Linked DNA regions of Homo sapiens: region 1 is linked to region 2. Evidence: fine-mapped expression QTL. Tissue or cell type: neural progenitor cells. Region 2 holds a variant in brackets; the other region holds the start of a gene. All regions are shown on one strand. Distances are between the middles of the regions.

Region 1 (10,208 bases), 190 kb after region 2:
GGCAGAAGAATCACTAGAACCTGGGAGGCGGAGGTTGCTGTGAGCTGAGATTGCGCCATTGCACTCCAGCCAGGGCGACAGAGCGAGACTTCATCTCACACACACACGCACACACACAAAGATTAACTCTTCATTCAAATGTCTTTGGTATAAGTCTGACTTTAATTTAAAATGTAAATTTATACAATGGCATTTTAGTGCTTCCTCTGACATTTCCTATAAGTTGTAGAGGTTGTATAAAACACTAAAAGTAGCTTTTTGATTTATGTATTCAAATGTAAAATAACATGTATGTTATTAAAATTACATTCAGATGAAAATAGTGTTCTTTTCTATTATACACAATAATTTCTAAGACTATGGATATTAGGTTTGCAATGTTGCAGCAGTTTTCAAAGCCAGAGATTCCACTCTTTGAAGAATTCTGGTAAATCCTTGATATTGATGTGGTTCAGGACATGCTGCCCCAAAATATGACACCTTTGACTTAGTGAATATTTTAAGCCAAAGGAATTCAAGAAATGGCAGGTGCAGGAAGGACTTTCTGATCTTCCTATGAAGCAGGTCATAAGACCTTCATGTGAGAGGTGCCCCTCCTATCTTCCAAGGAGATTGTCCTTATTTCCAAAGCTGCAGTGATTCCCAGATAAATATGAACAAACAGGCCTTGCTAAGGTTCCCCCAGTTTACAACTCTTAGTTCATACCCATTTTTATCCTATCATATTTTTCTATGTTTCTTTATTCTTCAGCAAACATACTTTGAAAACAATCAGGTTTAACTACTTCTTCGGGTCTTCAATTCCTTATGAAGTCTCCTGTGTCACGAAAAACTTATACTAAACGAATTTGTATGCATTTCTCTTGATCTGTCTTTTGTTACAGAGATCCAGCCAGGAACCAACAAAGGTAGGAAGAAAAGACAGTGTTCCTCTCCTGCAATATTTTGTATTGCAATGTACCTATGTATACTTTTATCTTGTAGTAATATACTGACAAAGTTTATTGCCTGAGTGCCAGAAAATGCAAGGTCACAAATAATTTTTGATACTCTTAAATTTTATTACCGTGCAGATGCCACAGAGAGACACTTTAGGGATGGAAGGAAAGACAGTTTACCTCCAGGGAGATCCCCTTTTTCCTCCTGGGGCTGCAGCCGGGCTGCCACTGTTGCTTCTGCTGCCACCAGTCTGGGCCCAGGTCTGGGCACAGCCCCAGGCTGTCCGACACCTGCCCTGTCAGGTGTTGGGCCAGCTTCTTAGAGCACATGTTGCCTGCTGTACCACAGGCCCATGGGTTGGGGGGTAATTTAAATTTTTTTGTTCTTCTTTCTACTTTTCTGTATTTTCTTCAAGAGCAGTAATATTTAAACAACTAGACAACAAAAATTTATGTTTTAATGTAAACTATAGTATCATTTCTTTTGTAAACGATATTATCACCTTTGTAATATTGCATTTGGCCATTTATATAGGTTATATTTGAATAAAGGACATCATTAGGCTGAAAAAAAGCACAGGGAGCAGTGTTAAAATAAAAAGATTATTCAACAATACTTGTTAAAGCATGGTAGAATTTATTCAGGACCATCATGATAGTTATAGGGACCACTGCAATGCGGTCCTTCAGTGGGGAAGACAGACTGGACTCAACTTCAAATACAGCAAGAACCCCCTACCCTTGATATCTGATCACTCTCTTGCCAAACTGACTTAGTAGTGTTCTTTGCTAAAACTGGATTTTACAAGGAAGTACAATGATGGTGCTAGGAAGTTTCAGAAGACTAACTAAAGTTTGGTCAAGCAAAGAATTGTTGTTAGCAGTAATTTGAAATTGGTTTTATTACAATAGCTTGCCCTTGATTTATTTTTAGTTGTGTCCTAATCTCTTTCAGAAATATGGTCCATCTTAATTTGCATGAGTGACTTAATCTATATGAGCCTCAGAGAGGTACTTCTACAATAATTCATGTTTTATTATAAATTGCTTTTGAGTGGACACAAGGCGTTTCAGGAGGTAGTATTGCGCTAATTATCAATCCTTTAAAAATAATTAGAGGCTAAGTAACAAGAATTAAATCTAACTTCCTTTTGGGCCCCTTTATTAGTCAAGATGGATGTTTTCCACTTTAAGAGAGAAGCAAATGGCTTGATGGGCTGGCATATCAATGTAAACCTCTCTCTGACATCAGTACTTCTATACTTTTCCTACCACACAGAGCAGTATTGAATCAGGAGGTGATGAGGCTGCAAAGAAACTAATTATTATTATTATTATTATTATTATTATTATTATTTTTAGAGATAGAGTCTCACACGGTCCCCAGGCTGGAGTGCAGTGGCGTGATCTTGGCTCACTGCAACCTCCACCTCCCAGGTTCAAGCCATTCTCCTGCCTTGGCCTCCCAAGTAGCTGGGACTACAGGCGCGTGCCACCACGCCTAGGTTATTTTTGTATTTTTAGTAGAGACAGGGTTTCACCATGTTGACCAGGATGGTCTCGATCTCCTGACCTGATCTGCCCACCTAGGCCTCCCAAAGTGCTGGGATTACAGGGGTGGGCCACCATGCCAGGCCCGAAGGAACTAATTTTTAAAAATATTCACTGATCAGTTGTCCTTGAGAAGACTTGAAGCATTTCACTATTTTAAGTCAATCTCAAATTTGTCATCTGAGCAAAATAGAATAAAGATGCCACTGAACCTAGAGGAAAGATTAGGTAACCAGGAATCCTACTTTCAGGTTTCCTTTATCTCTTCTTTTTATGATCTCTTTGGAGTCTCAGTCCCAAGTCCTGCACTACTCTCCATGGTCATGGAGCACTCTGATACTGTTTCCATCTAAAAAAGAAAACAACTCCGAGAAGAAGGGGGTAGCCAGAGCTCTTCCTTGGAAAAGGATGACTTAAGGATAATTTGAGGAAGGAAAAAAGACTTTCTTTCTATAAAAATCTACTATTAGAGGCCACTCTTTTCTTTTCTTTTTTGAGGCAGGGTCTCACTCTGTAGCCCAGGCCAGTCTTGAACTCCTGGCCTCAAGCAACGCTCCTGCCTTGGCCTCCCAAAGTGCTGGGATTGCGGGTGTGAGCCATTGCACCTGGCCTAGAGTCACTCTTTTGGGTTAAGACGTTCTCTCTAGAAAGCCTCCGTTAATTATAGGTAAGGATTGATACATTGACCTATTACCTCAACTATGATTTCAGCAAAGATAATTTCACTATCCCAATCAGCTGTTAACTTAGAAAGCTAGACTTTTATGGTGTTAACCACACACACATACAGACGCACACACACGAGCAGCTTTGGGTCTTCCAATCCTATACTTAGCACATTGTAGCACAAAGAATCTCCTTAATATATTTTTATTAAGTTAATAGGTGAATAGGAAAGGCTGTAGTGTGTTATACGGGGAAATAGACTCAGGTGTGTCTAGATATTAAAGTCGGTATATTAAGGTTACCAAGCGTGAAAGATTTTGATGGAAGAATGAAAACATCCATGTCCAGGACTTCCAGTTTCATTTCTCAGTCACTAATTTCAAGTCACCAAATAAACAAAGTGAAAATGGGTGAAACGTACTTTGAGTTACAATAAGTTTATCTTAATTCATTGACTTTTCAACTGCTCAGATGTCTTAAAATTTTTTAAAAAGTAAGTTGTTATAGTAAAGAGCCACACAAATACTCATAGCAGAGGAACAATTTCTGGATTATGTCGGTGAGCTTTTTAAGGGTTTGGGGAGGATGAGAATAAAAGGGTGACTTTTTATTTTCAGTTTTTCTATCTGGATGTGTCAAATTCCTGATAACTTCTAACACTCAGCAATGGAAATTTAGAAGGTGCCTGAAAGAACAAATAGAATTTTCAGACCTGGAGAAATTCTAGTAATCATCACTCTGGGACATATTATTAAAATTAGTATTTTAAAAAAGAAAACAATCTTTCAGAAAGACAGGAAGTTTAGGAGCCAAAGCCAGAGGCCCTAATACAAATCGCCCCCACCTCCCCATCCCCCCATCCCCACCTTCTTCCCCGCCCTGTTCAAACACGCCCACAGCCCAGGAAATAATGAGACCCAAGTGATCCAGCTAGATAGAAAAAGTAGTTTGCTTGGCATCTCCCAAATTATCTTGAGCAAACAATAAAATAAGAAATGTTTCAGAAGACAATTCGGCTCCCAGGCCCAAACCAAAACTCGAACCTGGTACTTTTTGTAAGTGCGGGCCAAGAAAGGGGCTGTAAAGTTAAAGAGCCGGTGGCGCCTCTGAACACACCCGGGCAGGGCGAGCAGGATGTCCTTGTCCAGGGAGACCCCTTCTCCTGGCTTTGAGGAAGGTGCTCCCTATCCCCGCGGGTTCCTCCGCCAAGCGGGACGCCGCGCCGGGCGGGTGAGAGAAAGCCCGGGCAGGAGAGCACAGAGCCGGCGACTGGACGCGAGCGCGGGGCGGGTGGAGAGCGTCTCTCCGGGCGCCGCTGCTGTTGTCCCGGGTGCTGAAAAGCCGGGAACTTCCCGGGAAGCAGCGGCACTTTTCTCCCTGGAAGGTGGGTGTGGGGGTTCCAGACTGCGCACCTGCTAAACCCTCCTGGGTCCCCCGGGAGGGGTCCGCCAGATGTGCCCCTTCCCAGCCCCATTCGGGGGAGAAGGATGGGGGCGGGGGCGTGGGGGTGAGCACAGCCGGACACCGCAAGTGGGAACCTGGGGTGTCCTTCCCCGCAGCTCCCGGGCAGCCGCGCGCCGCGAACCCCGGTCCACCTGCAAGCAAGGCGGGCCGGGGGCAGAGGGCGCCGGGCTGTGCGGGGGAACCGGCCCGCGTCCCGGGATTGGGGGGCGGTGGAAGAGAGAGCGAGCGGGCATGCGCAGTGGGGCGGAGGAGGTGGCGATGGCCGGGGGAGGCGGGGGGACTGCTGTTTATTTGCAGCTGGGCCAACTCCGCGGCGCAGGCGGCGGCGGAGCGCGGGGAGCTCGCGGCGGGTCCAGCTGCCGCAGCACCATGCCCGAGCCCCCCTCCGGGCAGACGCCGCGCGCCGCCGGGGCCCCGGTAGGGGAGGATGCCAGACGCCCGGGAGAGGCCAGGGCAGCAGCGGCGGCGGCGGCGCGATGGTGGTGACCACCTCTGCCCGAGGCGGCGGCGGGGACCGCACACCCTCCCGGCGGCGGGGCTGCGGGCTAGCGCCGGCCGGGGCCGCGGCGCTGCTGGCCGGGGCAAGCTGCCTGTGCTACGGCCGCTCCCTGCAGGGCGAGTTCGTGCACGACGACGTGTGGGCGATCGTGAACAACCCCGACGTGCGGCCCGGCGCCCCGCTCCGCTGGGGCATCTTCACCAACGACTTCTGGGGCAAGGGCATGGCCGAGAACACCAGCCACAAGTCCTACCGGCCGCTCTGCGTCCTCACCTTCAAGTGAGTCCCTCACCTCGCGCTAGCCGCCGCTGCCTCCTCTACCCTCCGCCCGTCCCTCGGACCGGGAGAAGTTGCGGGACTGACTTGGGGGCATTTCATTTTTGCCGCCCTTTCCCTCCACGCCTCCCTCCTCTCCAGGATGTGCATGGCACTTTGCTCCGGGATCCACTGCCCGGCTAATCTGGGCTCTCGGGGCGGTTCGGGAGGCGCCGGCTGGGGAGTTGGGATCGAGTTTCTCAACTGTCTGCCCTCTCAGCGGGCTTCTCTCTCGAGGCAGGGCTGGGAGCGGGCTGGTGAAACCGCCTCCGCACCCCTTCGCCTGCCGGATCGTGACCAAGTGGGACTAGCGCGGACCCAGAGGGTTCCGGAGGGGTGGCGGTGGTGGCGATGCTTCCAAGTAGAGAATTTCTCGGAGGCTGTTGGGCAGCTTTGCAGATGAGAAGTGTATCAGCCCCTTAAGGGTTTCGTTCAGATGAGACGAGGCGGGAGCCTTGAGCTGACAGGGCTGCGTGGGTTCAGGAGAGGGAGCAGAAAACTCTCCCGAGCCCCCCAGCCCCCGCCTTGCACCCTTGGCTGCTCCCAGAGGCTCTCCAATCTGCCAGACTTCTCTGGATCTAGACTTTAGAAGGTGCAGAGAGAGGTAACGCAGAGCCTAGGCTTCTCCAGGGACCCTGGGGCCCCAGCCGAAATAGTTTTTCTTTTACAACCTCGGAGTCATGATTCAGCGTTTCTGGTGTGAATAAGCGTAAAGGGAACCGAGAATATGCCAGGTTTTTGAGGGGTGGAGTATTTTCTTTAATTTGAAAAGAAGCCTAGCTTCTGAGGAAAGAAGAGAAGTGCTCATTTAAGGGAAATGCTATCTTACACAATCAGGAGCTTGACTCAACCCTTTATAATGTGGCTCAGCATTGAAGTTCATTTTAACGCGCCGGTCAAAACTGTTGAAATAATATTGGTGCGCTATTATCGGCGTTTTAAGCCTTTTTGCAACGGGTGTAATAGGAACCCGTGTTTATGGTAATGATTATTTGAGACTGGGTTGGCAGCTTGAAAAGCCTGCTCTGGATGAGAGGCTGAGGCCTCTTGACAGGTGTCTCTGATGACTCAGAAAAGGAAACCATAGCAATCGGCAACAATTCATGGGCTTTTGACTTACGTCTTCCACTGAAAGTTTAATGTTTTTAAGGAGAGTGAGAAAATTACATATTTGACTTTGAAGAGAATGTGTTATAGACATTTGTTCTCTTAGAAAGTTGTTCTCGTTTTCTACTGAAAGATAACCTTGGCTAACCTCGCTATTCAGTTTCCCAGATGTTTCTTAAAATCTCCTTGGGACAAATATAAATGTTTCACTTCTAGATTGACCTGCTTTTTCATTATTACAGTCAGGGTTGTTGGTTAATTTAGGATGTGCAAGTTCACAGCATGAGATGTGCTTGCTATCTTTGTAACAGCCATGGAGACCATCCTGGTCACAGGTCTGAGTATTTTTCAATTAAAAAGGGCAGAGTCAAATGCCTGTGCCTACTTGCTGGAGAGTAGGGAAGGGTGTTTTCACTTCTTGACTTTCTAGAAGGTTTTCTTCTTTTTTCTCTGTCTTTTCTCTTTTTTTCTTTTTTGGGATGGGATCTCACTCTGTCCTCCAGCCTGGAGTGCAGTGGCATGATTATTGCTCACTGTAGCCTGAAACTTCTGGGCATAAGCAATTCTCCTGCCTCAGCCTCCCAAGTAGCTGGAACTACTACTGGCACATGCCGTGCATCCAGATATATTTTAAAATTTTTTTTGTAGATATGGGGTCTTCCTATGTTGTCTAGGCTGGTGTTGAACTCCTGGGCTAAGCGATCTTTAAGCCTCAGCCTCCCAGTGTGCTGGACTTGTGGGCATGAGCTACTGTACCTCACCTAAAATGTTTTATTTTTCTTCATAATGGAGACAGCAGGCACATAAGGGAGGGGTGGAGGGAGTAGACAAAGAAGTAAGACCATTGATTAAGAGGAAAATTGGCTAGGAGTTGACAGAACAAGGGCAAAGGAGAGTTGGGGGATTCAGGAGGAAGAGAGCTGAGGGACTCTTGTGGTAATCATTGATTGTAACAAGCAGCTTGGTGTCTAAGAGGCATGGCTTGCTGTATATTATATGCTACTGCCTATGAAAGATACACTCTTTTTTTGAGAAGATTGAGTTGCAAATCTAGAAGAGAAACACAGCACTAATTGGAAAGAGATAACTGCCTCTTCAGAAAGAGAATGTTAAGTAGTCTTTCTGTCCTCACATGCATTGATTTAAATAAGACTGGACAGTTTTCTTTATATTCACCTGAGGTATAGCATGAAGCTGGAGGATATCAGTGATTTTAGAACCATACAACTCTACAGGATGGTACAAGGAAGGACAGAAAGCCGTATTTATTAACTATTCGCTATGAACCAAGCATTGGCCTAGATACTTCACATAGATTACGTCTTTATGATTTTTATTTTAGATAGTGAAAACACAATTGAAGGGGCCCTTTAAATATGTGCAAACCATTTTAACTGTATCTTAAATTATGCTTGTTTGAGCAAAAACTTTGAGATTTCAAACCCGTTTTAAAAACTTTTTTAATGTAATTGTGCATTCCCATGCAGTTTTAAGTAATAATAGAGAGATTCCTTCTACTCTATCCATTTCCCCCAATGGTAACATCCTGTATTATTATGGTATAATATTACAACCAGGAAATTGATATTGATGCAATCTACAGCATTTAGTCAGATTTCACCCATTTTATATGTACTTCTATTTTTTTTATTTTACTAAGTGTGTATTTAGTTTTATGCAGCTTTATCATATGTGTAGATTTCAGAGAGTACCTCCACAGTCAAGATACGGAACAATTCCATCCCAAGGATCCTCAGTACTTCTTTATTGCAATCATGGACACCTAATCTATAACAACTGCCTAATCCATAATCCCCTCACCCAAATCCATAACAACCATGAATCTGTTCTCCATTATCATTTTGCCATTTTAATACTGTTGTATAAATGGAATCACATAGTATGTAACCTGTTGAGATTGGCTTCTTGCACTCAGCATGTCTCTGGATCTTCATTCAGGCTGTTGCATGTATCCATAGTTTGTTCCTTTTTATTGCTGAGTTGTATTCCATTGTATGGATATACCACAGTTTGTATAACCATTCACCTGTTGGGGACATCTAGGTTGTTTCCAACTTTTGGCTGGGATAAAGCTGCTATAAAAATTCACTTACAGGTTTTTATGTAAACATAGATTTTTATTTCTCTGTTCTAAATGCCCAGGAGTCCAATTGCTGGGCCATATGGTGGCTGCATGTTCATATGCTTTATATGAAGCTGCCATACTGTTTTCCAGATGTTCCTAGCCGCAGTGTCTGAGTAATCCAGTTTCTGTGCATTTCTGCCAGCACTTTGTATTGTTGCTGTTTTTTACTGTAGCCATTTTGATAGGTATGTAGTGATATCACACCTATATATGTACCTCATTAATTTACCATTCCCTAATGGGTGAAGCTATTGAACATCTGATATTAAACCAAAGAGTTTGGTAAATGTGCCTTTGTGTCTTTTGTCCATTTTTAAGTGTTTTTTTTAAATGTTGAGTATTGAAGTTCTTTATATATTCTAGATACATGTACTTTGTCAAGTATGTGATTGGTAAATATTTTCTCCCACTCTGTAGCTTGTCTTTTTGTCCTCCTCACAGGACCTTTCTCAGTGCAATACTCCAAACATATTTTTTATTAAAATGTAAGTTGATTTTTGATTCATTGAATGTATCTTACGCATACTGAGAGCTAGAAATTTCCTTAAGAATAAATGTAATTTATAGATGCATAATACTTTTTGCTATAAAGGTGGTTGCTTGTATACTAATAAATAATAAAAGTGCTTGCTTAGGTAGTAAAGATACTAATTATGTATTTTTTCAAGTAAGAAATGAACTAAAATTTGAAATGAGGAAATGGGTTGCAGACCATCTACTTCTACCAGTTTTGAGGGGATGGGACAGTGGAATATGAAAGCAGCTTACCAAGATGTGGTGGCTTTGCACTATGTCACTTTAGCTAAGTTGGGACTATGTTTCTTGGAATTGCCTTTGCAAGATGATCTGGGTTAGGGCTGACCATAAGAAAAATTTCTGCAAGATTTGGAAGGTGAAAGTGAAGTGGCTAAGATCACATTCAGAATGTTGGCATAGGTTTTGTTGCTGCCAGGCCTCTTGCAGTTTGTCACAGAAATGTTGGTGAACATGCTGTTGGTTTGCAGCAGCACCCAGGCCCTCAGCTCCTCCAGTGCTCTCCAGATCTCGTCTTTCAGCTACTTGGAATCATGGTGCAGGTGTGTATGCAGCTCTGCAGGGAAGAGTGCCAGTCTTTTTGCAAGCCTCTTGCATTGTTAAAGTTGGAGCCTTAAAGGCAGTGGAAAACAGACATGTATTTTAGCTCATCCTTGTGGGTTCCATTTTGCCTTTGCTTCCCCCTACTTCAAGTCCATTCACCCTCTCTTCCAGAATGGCCCTGCTGCCCTGCTGGCTTTCAACTTGGATAATAGACACAGAAGCATCACACTTACATAGGCTATTTAACCAGCCCCAGCAATAGTAAAAGGTCAGATCCCCATAGTACATCCCTTCTTCTGAATCACTCATGGTGGCTCTGGTTTTCTAGTCTAACCCTAACTGATACAAATGACCATCTCTTTGTGTTCCTTGAAGTGAATTTAGAATTACAATGAATTTCTGTTTCCAGTCAAATCTCAGATTCAGTCTTTTCATAAGATCATGC
Region 2 (10,208 bases):
CGAGGATTTTTGCATTGATGTTGATCGGGGTATTGGTCTAAAATTCTCTTTTTTTGTTGTATCTCTCTCAGGCTTTGGTATCCGGATAGTGCTGCCCTCATAAAATGAGTTAGGGAGGATTCCCTCTTTTTCTATTGATTGGAATAGTTTCAGAAGGAATGGTACCAGTTCTTCCTTGTACCTCTGGTAGAATTTGGCTGTGAATCCATCTGTTCCTGGACTCTTTTTGGTTGGTAAGCTATTGATTATTGCCACAATTTCAGAGCCTGTTATTGGTCTATTCAAAGATTCAAATTCTTCGTGGTTTAGTCTTGGGAGGGTGTATGTGTCGAGGAATTTATCCATTTCTTCTAGATTTTCTAGTTTATTTGCGTAGAGGTGTTTGTAGTATTCTCTGATGGTAGTTTGTATTTCGTGGGATCGGTGGTGATATCCCCTTTATCATTTTTTATTGCATCTATTTGATTCTTCTCTTTTTTTCTTTATTAGTCTTGCTAGTAGTCTATCAATTTTGTTGATCCTTTCAAAAAACCAGCTCCTGGATTCATTAATTTTTTGAAGGGTTTTTTGTGTCTCTATTTCCTTCAGTTCTGCTCTGATTTTAGTTATTTCTTGCCTTCTGCTAGCTTTTGAATGTGTTTGCTCTTGCTTTTCTAGTTCTTTTAATTGTGATGTTAGGGTGTCAATTTTGGATCTTTCCTGCTTTCTCTTGTGGGCATTTAGTGCTATAAATTTCCCTCTACACACTGCTTTGAATGTGTCCCAGAGATTCTGGTATGTTGTGTCTTTGTTCTCATTGGTTTCAAAGAACCTCTTTATTTCTGCCTCCATTTCGTTATGTACTCAGTAGTCATTCAGGAGCAGGTTGTTCAGTTTCCATGTAGTTGAGCAGTTTTGAGTGAGTTTCTTAATCCTGAGTTCTAGTTTGATTGCACTGTGGTCTGAGAGACAGTTTGTTATAATTTCTGTTCTTTTACATTTGCTGAGGAGAGCTTTACTTCCAACTATGTGGTCAATTTTGGAATAGGTGTGGTGTGGTGCTGAAAAAAATGTACATTCTGTTGAGTTGGGGTGGAGAGTTCTGTAGATGTCTATTAGGTCCGCTTGGTGCAGAGCTGAGTTCAATTCCTAGGTATCCTTGTTAACTTTCTGTCTCATTGATCTGTCTAACCTTGACAGTGGGGTGTGTGAACTCCCATTCACAATTGCTTCAAAGAGAATAAAATACCTAGGAATCCAACTTACAAGGGATGTGAAGGACCTCTTCAAGGAGAACTACAAACCACTGCTCAATGAAATAAAAGAGGATACAAACAAATGGAAGAACATTCCATGCTCATGGGTACGAAGAATCAATATCATGAAAATGGCCATACTGCCCAAGGTAATTTATAGATTCAATGCCATCCCCATCAAGCTACCAATGACTTTCTTCACAGAATTGGAAAAAACTACTTTAAAGTTCCTATGGAACTGAAAAAGAGCCCGCATCGCCAAGTCAATCCTAAGCCAAAAGAACAAAGCTGGAGGCATCACACTACCTGACTTCAAACTGTACTACAATGCTACAGTAATCAGAACAGCATGGTACTGGTACCAAAGCAGAGATATAGACCAATGGAATAGAACAGAGCCCTCAGAAATAATACCTCACATCTACAACCATCTGATCTTTGACAAACCTGACAAAAACAAAAATGGGGAAAGGATTCCCTATTTAATAAATGGTGCTGGGAAAACTGGCTAGCCATATTTAGAAAGCTGAAACTGGTCACTATTTTTCATTTAAAAGAGCAGAGAAGTACAATTTAAAAATAGAATTTCATTCAATAATTCTCCTACCCACTGGTACTTAGTTAACCCCTCAGCTATCAGGCCAATTCAGTTATTTATCAAAATTCATTCCCTGGAGGGAAACAGACAGCAATGGTCTAAGTGTAAGTTGTCTTGGAAAATAAACAGGACAGAGTCCTTCTAGGTCATTCCTAGAAGTCATCTGTATTAACTCATTGTGTGAGGTCAGGTTATTTAGTGGACCGACCTCTCATTTGAGAATGTGTCACACTTTCCTAAATCACCTAAGAATTTTCTTGGATCTGTCTATTATGGACCAAGAAGGAGTACAATTATAGCAGAAAGTGACTATCTGAATTATTAATAATGATTAAGAGGCAGGCCATTAAGATTACCTACTTTTATCAAAGGGAGATTTATTGACTTGATAATTCAAATGTTATGGCGGGAACAAGGTTCAGTTTAAGATCACAGACTAGTCATATTTTCCCTTTGATTTTTTTCAATATGAAATAGTAAATAAATATCTTATTTTAAGCATAGTTAACTTTGAATAAATTAATGTGTAAGAATGGCAATCAGACAAATCATGGTGTGTACACTCAGAAAGGAAATTGCAAACAGGAGTAAGAAAGTTGCTGAAATAATAAAAAATGACCAAACTCTTTGGGTTTTGAAAAGATTATTTGAAAATCTAAAGAAAATGACTGAAATCAAATATATAATTAAACTTTAATTATATAGGTTTCATCAATAAGTAATCTTTGTTTATTGTCTGGATTATAGTCCCACTGTATTGTTTTCTGACCTCAGCCTGTGGACTTTTGGTTGACATTAAGAATAATAGAGCTGAATGAATATGTATTTTTATTTACAATTTTCTATAAGATGTAGAAAGCCAAGTTTTATACACTTTCTTAATGTCATCTATTCTGAACTGGCTTTCCATAATGCCATATTTTTCAGGGATGTAATATTCATGTTGTATAATAGGAAACAAATCTCCTACTGAAGAAATTGTATTAGTCCATTCTCACACTGCTGTAAAGAACTACCTGAGACTGGGTCATTTATAATGAAAAGAGGTTTAACTGGCTCATAATTCCGTAAGCTGTACTGTATAGGAAGCATAGCTGGGGAGACGTCAGGAAATTTTCAATCGTGGCAGAAGGCGAAGGGGAAGCCGGCATGTCCTACATGGCTAGAGCAGGAGGAAGAGGCCGAGGGGATTGGGGGTGCCACAGGCTTTTACAACAACCAGATCTCCTGAGAACTCACTCATTATCATGAGAATAGGAAGGAGGAAGTCTGTTCTCATAATTAAGTCACCTCCCACCAGGCCCCTCTTCCAACACTGGGGATGACAATTGGACATGAGATTTGGGCAGGGACAGAAATTCATACTATGTCAGAAATGAGATTTCAGTAGCCCAGTTTCTTGAAATGTGAGTTGATTTCACTTCTGTCTCTGAGAACTGGCCCCTAAAAGCTGAATACATTGGCCAATGAAATGAAGTTAAGTAATTATCCCAGTGGAAGATTTAATTAGTAGCTATGTATTTATCATCCCCTTAGTGGGCTATTATCCCTGAAAGTTTAACTGAATCATCTTTTTGAAAAACTCATAGATTTACTAGAGACACTATCCTCCTTATACTTTCTTTAAAGAACACTAGTTCTTAGTAATATGAGTAAAATAATAATTTATGTATTTTTAAATGATATATAGTTTACTTAATTTCTTCCAGCTATGGTTTCCTCACCTGTAAGGTAGGGACAATAATAATTTTAAAGAATAGTGAAGACTAAATAATTGAATGAATGGAAAAACACTTCATAAACTGTAAAATATAATGCAAATATAAAGTATCAGCCCTATTGTCATAGTTTATTTGGACTTATTTTGTTGTTGTGTTTCCTTCCTTTCGTTTTTCCCTTAGGCACCTCCTCCCTCCCAAGAATTATGTCCTATTCATACGTCACAGAGACTGTGGCTAGGATAGAAGGGCATAACAGTGCCCTTGCCTGCTAATTTTACTAGTTGTGATTAAGGAAATGGTACTAGGTACAAATAAAGAGCACCTTAAATTACCGGAGTTGTGTATATTAAGGCTTTAAGTTTTCTAATGCTTTAATTTAAAAGATTAAAATTCTCAGTGGATTAGAGATTATTTCTATGACTCCTAACTTATTCCTTTTCCTTCAGCCACTCAATTATGTTTCTATATTTATTGTGGCTTTTAAATGAAAATAAACTTTGTTCCACTGCAAGACTCCTTAAAACATCAAACACAGTATCTTATAATTAATTTTAAAATCTTAATTCGCAGGAAAAAAATGGAAAAGCAATAGTAAGAGAGTCACAATAAACAATAAAAATGTTGATTAGGACGGTGAAAAGTAAACTACACAGTGGCTGTTCACAATGGTCTTCAAAAGAGAGCTTAAAAATCACTATTCTGTTTCAGTTCAGTGAAGCATTCGTTGAGTTATATAGATGAAACACTTTGTTTTTTTTCCTAAAGATGGGATAGGGGATAATTACCAGCAGGATTTTGTGTGACATACCTGTGGCAGTCAAAATCAAGATGAACTTAAATTTATTCTGACAGACATCTCTTGAATTATTCATCGTTTTTATAGAAAATACCCCCTTGACACTTCTGAAGACCTCAAGCCCCGATCTAATTCAAAGGCTTAGTTAAAGGATAAATACACAAAGTGTGTTTTGTGTCTGCATGGGTCTACAGTACATTTAAAAGGTGGCTGTTTTAAAAATATATATATTTTATAGAAAATCAAAATTAAAAGTAATTTTTTAACCTGATTATTGAAGAATTCTTCAAATGAAGTTAGGCTTTGTTTCATAACTAATGCAATGCCACCACGATGATCACATAAAACCCAAAGGAATTTTCACCTAATCAGATACCTAGTGAGAGAGGCTATTGCTTCCAGACCCTTACCATTACCAGGAATAAAAAATATCTGCACATTATTCAGATGGAGGGCTGTGCATGGTAATAGAATCAGGAAGTTGCTATAAATACTAGCAGTCCCACTTTTAATAGGTCAGGGCTAATTGTTAAAGCAAAGTTCCTGCTTTAACTATGGCCATGCTGGAGTCCTCTCCTTGTAAGCCTCATGATTCTGCAGCTGCAGTCAGTCTTTGAGCTCAGGATATATGAAAGGCCT[TC/C]TGTGCTCTTCTATGATGAAAGAGGAAAGAGTCCCAGGGATGCTTTCTATTACTGTGCATCTGAAGGAAACAACCAGCATAGGGATTAACTCACCGCGTTTCCTGGATACTCCTTGAATCTGTCAGTGGCCAGACAGCTGAATTTAGCATACATCAATCAATCAATCAATGAATCAATCAATCAAACTTTGAATTACAGTCCTGGCTGCACTATAGTCATAACTATGGCCAAGAAGCACTAAAGGAATTCTTAAACACAAACTGTCCAGGAGAGTTTCTAGGGCAAGGCCAGAGTGGGTTAGCACAAGAGTATTTTGTGCTGTAGCCATAGCTATGATATCCACTAGCTGCCTCTCAGAGATGGCACCTGAAATTTGCTATCCCTTAGTTACTTCCTACAGTGTGGTTGGAGGGATAAAAAGGCCCTTGAGCTTTCTTTGCCAATTAAAGATGTCCAGAGAGAAGCAGTGAGCCTTTCTAAGGCTCAATGTGTTTTCTTTGTCTGGCTGCCTCTCCTATGTCTCCCAAAACAGCTTCCTAAGCTCTTGTGTAGTCCTTTTAAGCTCATGCAGCTTGTCTTCTTTGGCTTTTTAATAGAAACTCCTTCTGCCCCCAAATTAAATTCATCTTAGATGGGGCAGAAGTGTGTGTCAGGGGAAGTATGGCATTTAATTGTCTAGGAACTTGACAAGGACTGATCTTGTTTTTATGACTTAGGCATTATCTTAGATTTCTGCGTTAAAAGCTAGCCTCATAAGCTTATTTCTAGTATGGTGGGTGACAGAGATGGGAGGAACTTACTAAATGCCAGCTACATCTACTCTAAATGCAGCAAAAACAGCTAAGTCATATAATGGTGCTGATTTGGCTTCTTTTTAGTTTTGAGTTAAGGAAGTAAGCAAATTCCTTTGCTTCCTCAACTCCTGCAAACATGGTGTACCGGTGGACGTACAGCCAGTCCTCCTTTGCAGCTGCTTCTAAACAATGGGAATGTTGACCTATTGGATTTTTTTTTTACCCACATAATTGTGCATCGCTTAAGTGTTTTTAAAAGTGTTTTAGTAGGATTTCAGTGCTCTAAAAATATATCATTCCAGGCAGAGTCCAGTGGCAGAAAGGAGAAGTGAAATAAAACAGAAAAGAAAATCAAAAGTTAAGAATCGTTTTGGCAGACATTGTGTACATTTTTCTCTCTGAGTAATGTAGTTTCTTTACCCAAGGAACTTCTGCCATCTTGTACAAATAGCACTACATGAGTAGTGGTCAGCAGCCCCACCAGGCCCAGAACTCAGCCCCTGAGGCAAGAAGGATATTCTAATGCAAGAACTTGAAATGTATTTAATGCTGGTAGCTTTTGCCTAGTAGTTCCAAATCATACATGATTGGATGGTTACTTATTTTAATACTTTATGTCAACAATTTTCTTGTTGAGATGAAACTCACCATTGTTTGATTTTGATAGTGGAATATGGAGAGACAAAAGAAAAAGCAAATGTGCCTACCTTAAAGCTTGATGTACAATCAAATGGCTTAACATTTTCACTTTTTTTTTTGTTCCCACCATACAAGTGTCCTGAACAATGGGCACAACAGAGAAAGAGATATTGTCAGTGTCCTTCAGCTAGGTACATTTTACATCTTGGAAGTATCTTTAAGGAAATGGAATGTCAAGGGCGCTGTAATTTCAACAGTTTTAATTATGGTGTCACAGTCTCTTCTTCAGGCAGAATAATTAGAGTTTTCAAGCTTTGGGGACTGTAATATCCATCTGAATTAATTCTTTCTCTTCTCAGTCAACATTTCTTAACATGGCTTCCTGAAAATACTACTTCTGAGGGTTGTCCATGGCTGTTCTTAAGTGAGTGAGGTGGAAATGCAAAGTCCATTGGTCAGAGAAATTTAGAAAATGGCGGGTTAAACAAAGATAAATAGATTTCTTTATTGTAGTAGCCATGTGAAACTTTTTAAGAAGAAAAGATGAATACAGCATTGCCCAAGGAATGCTTTTGGGGGAAAAGTATTTCTCAAAACAAGTGTTCCAAGGGATATAATTTGGGAGAATCGTTCAGGATTATAATTCAGTTATCATACTCAGCTTATGTTATGAGTAACAAACAAGTGAGCTGAGATCATAAGTGATAACTTTGCCTTTAGGGATAGAGTTTTGGTTTTTGCTTACTGCCATGTTTATGAGTTGATAATGCAGTTACGTCATTGCAGAATGGGTTAGATTGGAGTCTTGAATCTTATATATTTATCAATATAAACCTTAGGTGTGTGGGTGATGTTGTTAGTGATAATAGTAACAGTAATGATATTTAACTTGTAACCTAGTCAGAATGAAAACAACTACTACAAAAAGACAGAAACATTAACAAAATGGTGGGAATAAAAAAAGTAATGGATTATTTATATATTTATATATGCCTCATGAGAAACTGAGAATTCACACAAATAATGAAATTATTTCTGTATTTACAGACTTCTAGGGGAAAAGAAATATGCTTCTTCATTTTTGCATATCCTCCAGTACTTGCCCAGGGATCCCTGGTATTTAATAGATAATTGGTGATTGCTCTTAACTGCATTCAAATAATCCATTCAATAGATGAGTTATTTAACAGATAATTGATGATTTAATTATCAATTGTATTTAATAGATACATCGATGATTGTTTTTAACTGAATTGAAATAACTCATTAGAAATTCAGTTATCACATACCATGCTAACTGTAATATCCTGCTTTATCTACACAGTAGAAAACTAAAAGTAACAATAAAGTGTTCTCTAAAATGTATTTTGAGTTTAAAGCTTCAGAAACAAAAATAAAAAACTTTAAAGGGTTCTCTTTTAAAATTTGAAATTTAATAAACTAATATTGGTAAGGCAATAAAATTGGTTTTTATTTTTAGCCTATAAATGCTTTTATCCCATCAGAATGAATAATTATTCTAAAAATTGTCATTATTCTAAGCAGATATAATCTTATCCCAGTCCATTCCTATAAGGTCATGGTTGCCTAGCTCAGTATGCATTGGCGTTAATTATTGTGTTTACCTTCAATTTTGTCTTTCATTAATGTTTTGTCAAGGGCTCTCACCAGATCCCGCGTAAGCTTAATGGGTTGTTTGTGCTCTTCCAGCCTCTCCATAATGGAATTGACAAAATTGCCTTGGTTATGGCAGTATAAATGCATCTTCTCCACCTGCTGGATTACTCCCTGAATCTTGGGATCATATTCACAGAGAGGCATGTGCTTTTTACTAATGTGTTTGTGTGTGTGTCTGTGTGTGTGTGCGTGTTCACGTTTTTCTTTAATCCTGTTAAGTGGAAACATTGCTGTTGGCTAATTATGAAATAATTTTACTATCGTGCATGACAATAACATTTATCATGGATGTGAAGTAAGTTTTAAGTTCAAAAATGGCCTCAGCTCTCCTGATGCAATACAAAATGAAGGGGATGCAACACACACTGAAAAATCCCATTACTATACTATTAAAGAAGATTTAAGCAATACAAATCAGTAATTTTTTTAAAAAACTGAAGTTGAAAACTCGGTACTATTTGATAGAAATTGAGAAGGATGAACACTGAGGATGGATGAAGAAATGCATACTGAGACAGAAATGCCATTTCAGCACCAGAAACCTCCTTCATAGAATAAAAGGAAATCAGCAGATGAAAAACATGAGTGCAGCAATTTTAGCATTTATTTAGATTGTAAGATTATATGGTGTTTATTATTTTACTCTACTGCTTTTAGGTTTTATGGCCATTTATTTCTTCATCTGTAGTTCTTAGGGCTTATTTTTTAAAGTTATAGCTATTTCTCAATATGTTTTACTTAAAGCCCAAGTAACAAGAAGGCTGGAAAATTTTCTTCTCATGCCTATTTGGGTCCCCGGATCACATAATATAATGAAAAAATTGATTTCAAGTACCATGTAAATGTGCATTTTTTTTCTTGGCTAATTCTTTTCAAAAAAAGCCAGGTTTAATGGCCTGGCTACAAAGTGCCATCTCATTCTTAGGAAAGAGCCCCTGCAGTGATGATATAACACTGTGCTGAGTGTGGCTGTACAGGAGAAGGATGGCAGAGATTCTTTTAAATTTCATTTTGCCAAGACCTAAGCAAGAGATCGATACTATGCTCTTTCTTTTTCAATTAACACAAATTGCCAGTAACTGTTTTCTTGTATTAATACACGTGAGTCCAACTTAGAAAAATATCATATTTTGGATGGTGAAAATGTCTCCTTTTGACAATAAAAAGCAGTTCAAACAAAACATAGGAATTTTTTTTTTTCTAATTCTATTTTGGTAAAGTCAATTTGATGACTATCCCTGCTACATAGCACTTTGTTGTTTTCAAAGTGTGGATTGGTCTGTATGTCATGAGGATCTTGCCAGTCTGTGAGAATGATCCTGTAAGAGAAACCGAGGCCCTGAGAGAATAAACGACTGGTATAAACTCACACAACTAATTGGTGACAGGACCTGGATGGTCACCTGGTTTACAGTCTGGTTGGTTTTGTTGTTTGTTTGGTTTGGTTTTGCTTTTTAAGTAGAATGGGTACATTTCAGTGTAGAATTTAATCCAGTTGATTAGAATGGTTATAATAGTTAAGATGGATGTAATACTTTCTGCTTTCCAGAGTTATTTCATGTCTTTTACCTTATTTAAGAGTTAGGGTAACTTCAGTCATAGCAATTATTATCATCCTTCTCCCCATTTTACAGTTTCAGAAACCAAGACTTAGAGATCTCATGTGACCTTGGTGCAGATTGTGGCAGACCAGGATGGAATCACTGCCCTTGGACTCCTCGTCCTGTTCACATTCCATGATCCATGCTGCCCAAGTAGCTTTCCCATCCAAAAATTGTATTTAAATTGAATGATTTGTGTTTTCCTCTTTGGAAGAAAGCATCCTTCAAACTGTGTCTTCCTGAAGGAGGTATTGAATTTCATTTATATTTCCCCAAGCCACCACCTCTGAATGGCAGCGAGAGGTGACCCAGAAAACAGGCAGGGCTAAACAACATTTAAATAATGCTGAGCTTTCTTTCCACCTTTTTTAAAGATATATTTCCTTCTAAGTAGCAGTAGATCACAGTCTGAAAGCAATGACTATATCTTAAATTGATTTTTGACTTGATTCTCTTTTGGCTTTTTTTATTCCTGTACCTCACAACAGAATGCTGCTTACTTTTTA

Which allele goes with the higher level. Positions count from the first base shown, and alleles are read on the strand shown. Sizes are in standard deviations (SD) of each study's normalised expression.
For the expression in neural progenitor cells of the gene that starts at base 4,905 in region 1, C is the low allele of the variant in region 2 and TC is the other (large effect, 1.1 SD a copy in Aygun 2021).

The links. PIP is the estimated chance that this variant, and not a neighbour inherited with it, causes the effect.
Region 1: it holds the start of TMTC1, and the variant in region 2 is fine-mapped to the expression of TMTC1 in neural progenitor cells (Aygun 2021, PIP 0.95).

Annotation. Positions count from the first base shown.
Region 1 is chr12:29,778,639-29,788,846 of GRCh38, reverse strand. TMTC1 (transmembrane O-mannosyltransferase targeting cadherins 1) reads left to right here and starts at 4,905. Exons shown (of 18, transcript NM_001193451.2): 1 at 4,905-5,397. The coding sequence starts at 5,096.
Region 2 is chr12:29,966,432-29,976,639 of GRCh38, reverse strand. The region is part of intron 3 of LOC105369715 (a long non-coding RNA gene); the gene reads left to right. Among named protein-coding and RNA genes, the nearest start is that of TMTC1, 190 kb to the right of the region's middle. The variant TC/C (reference allele first, on the strand shown) is at 4,990.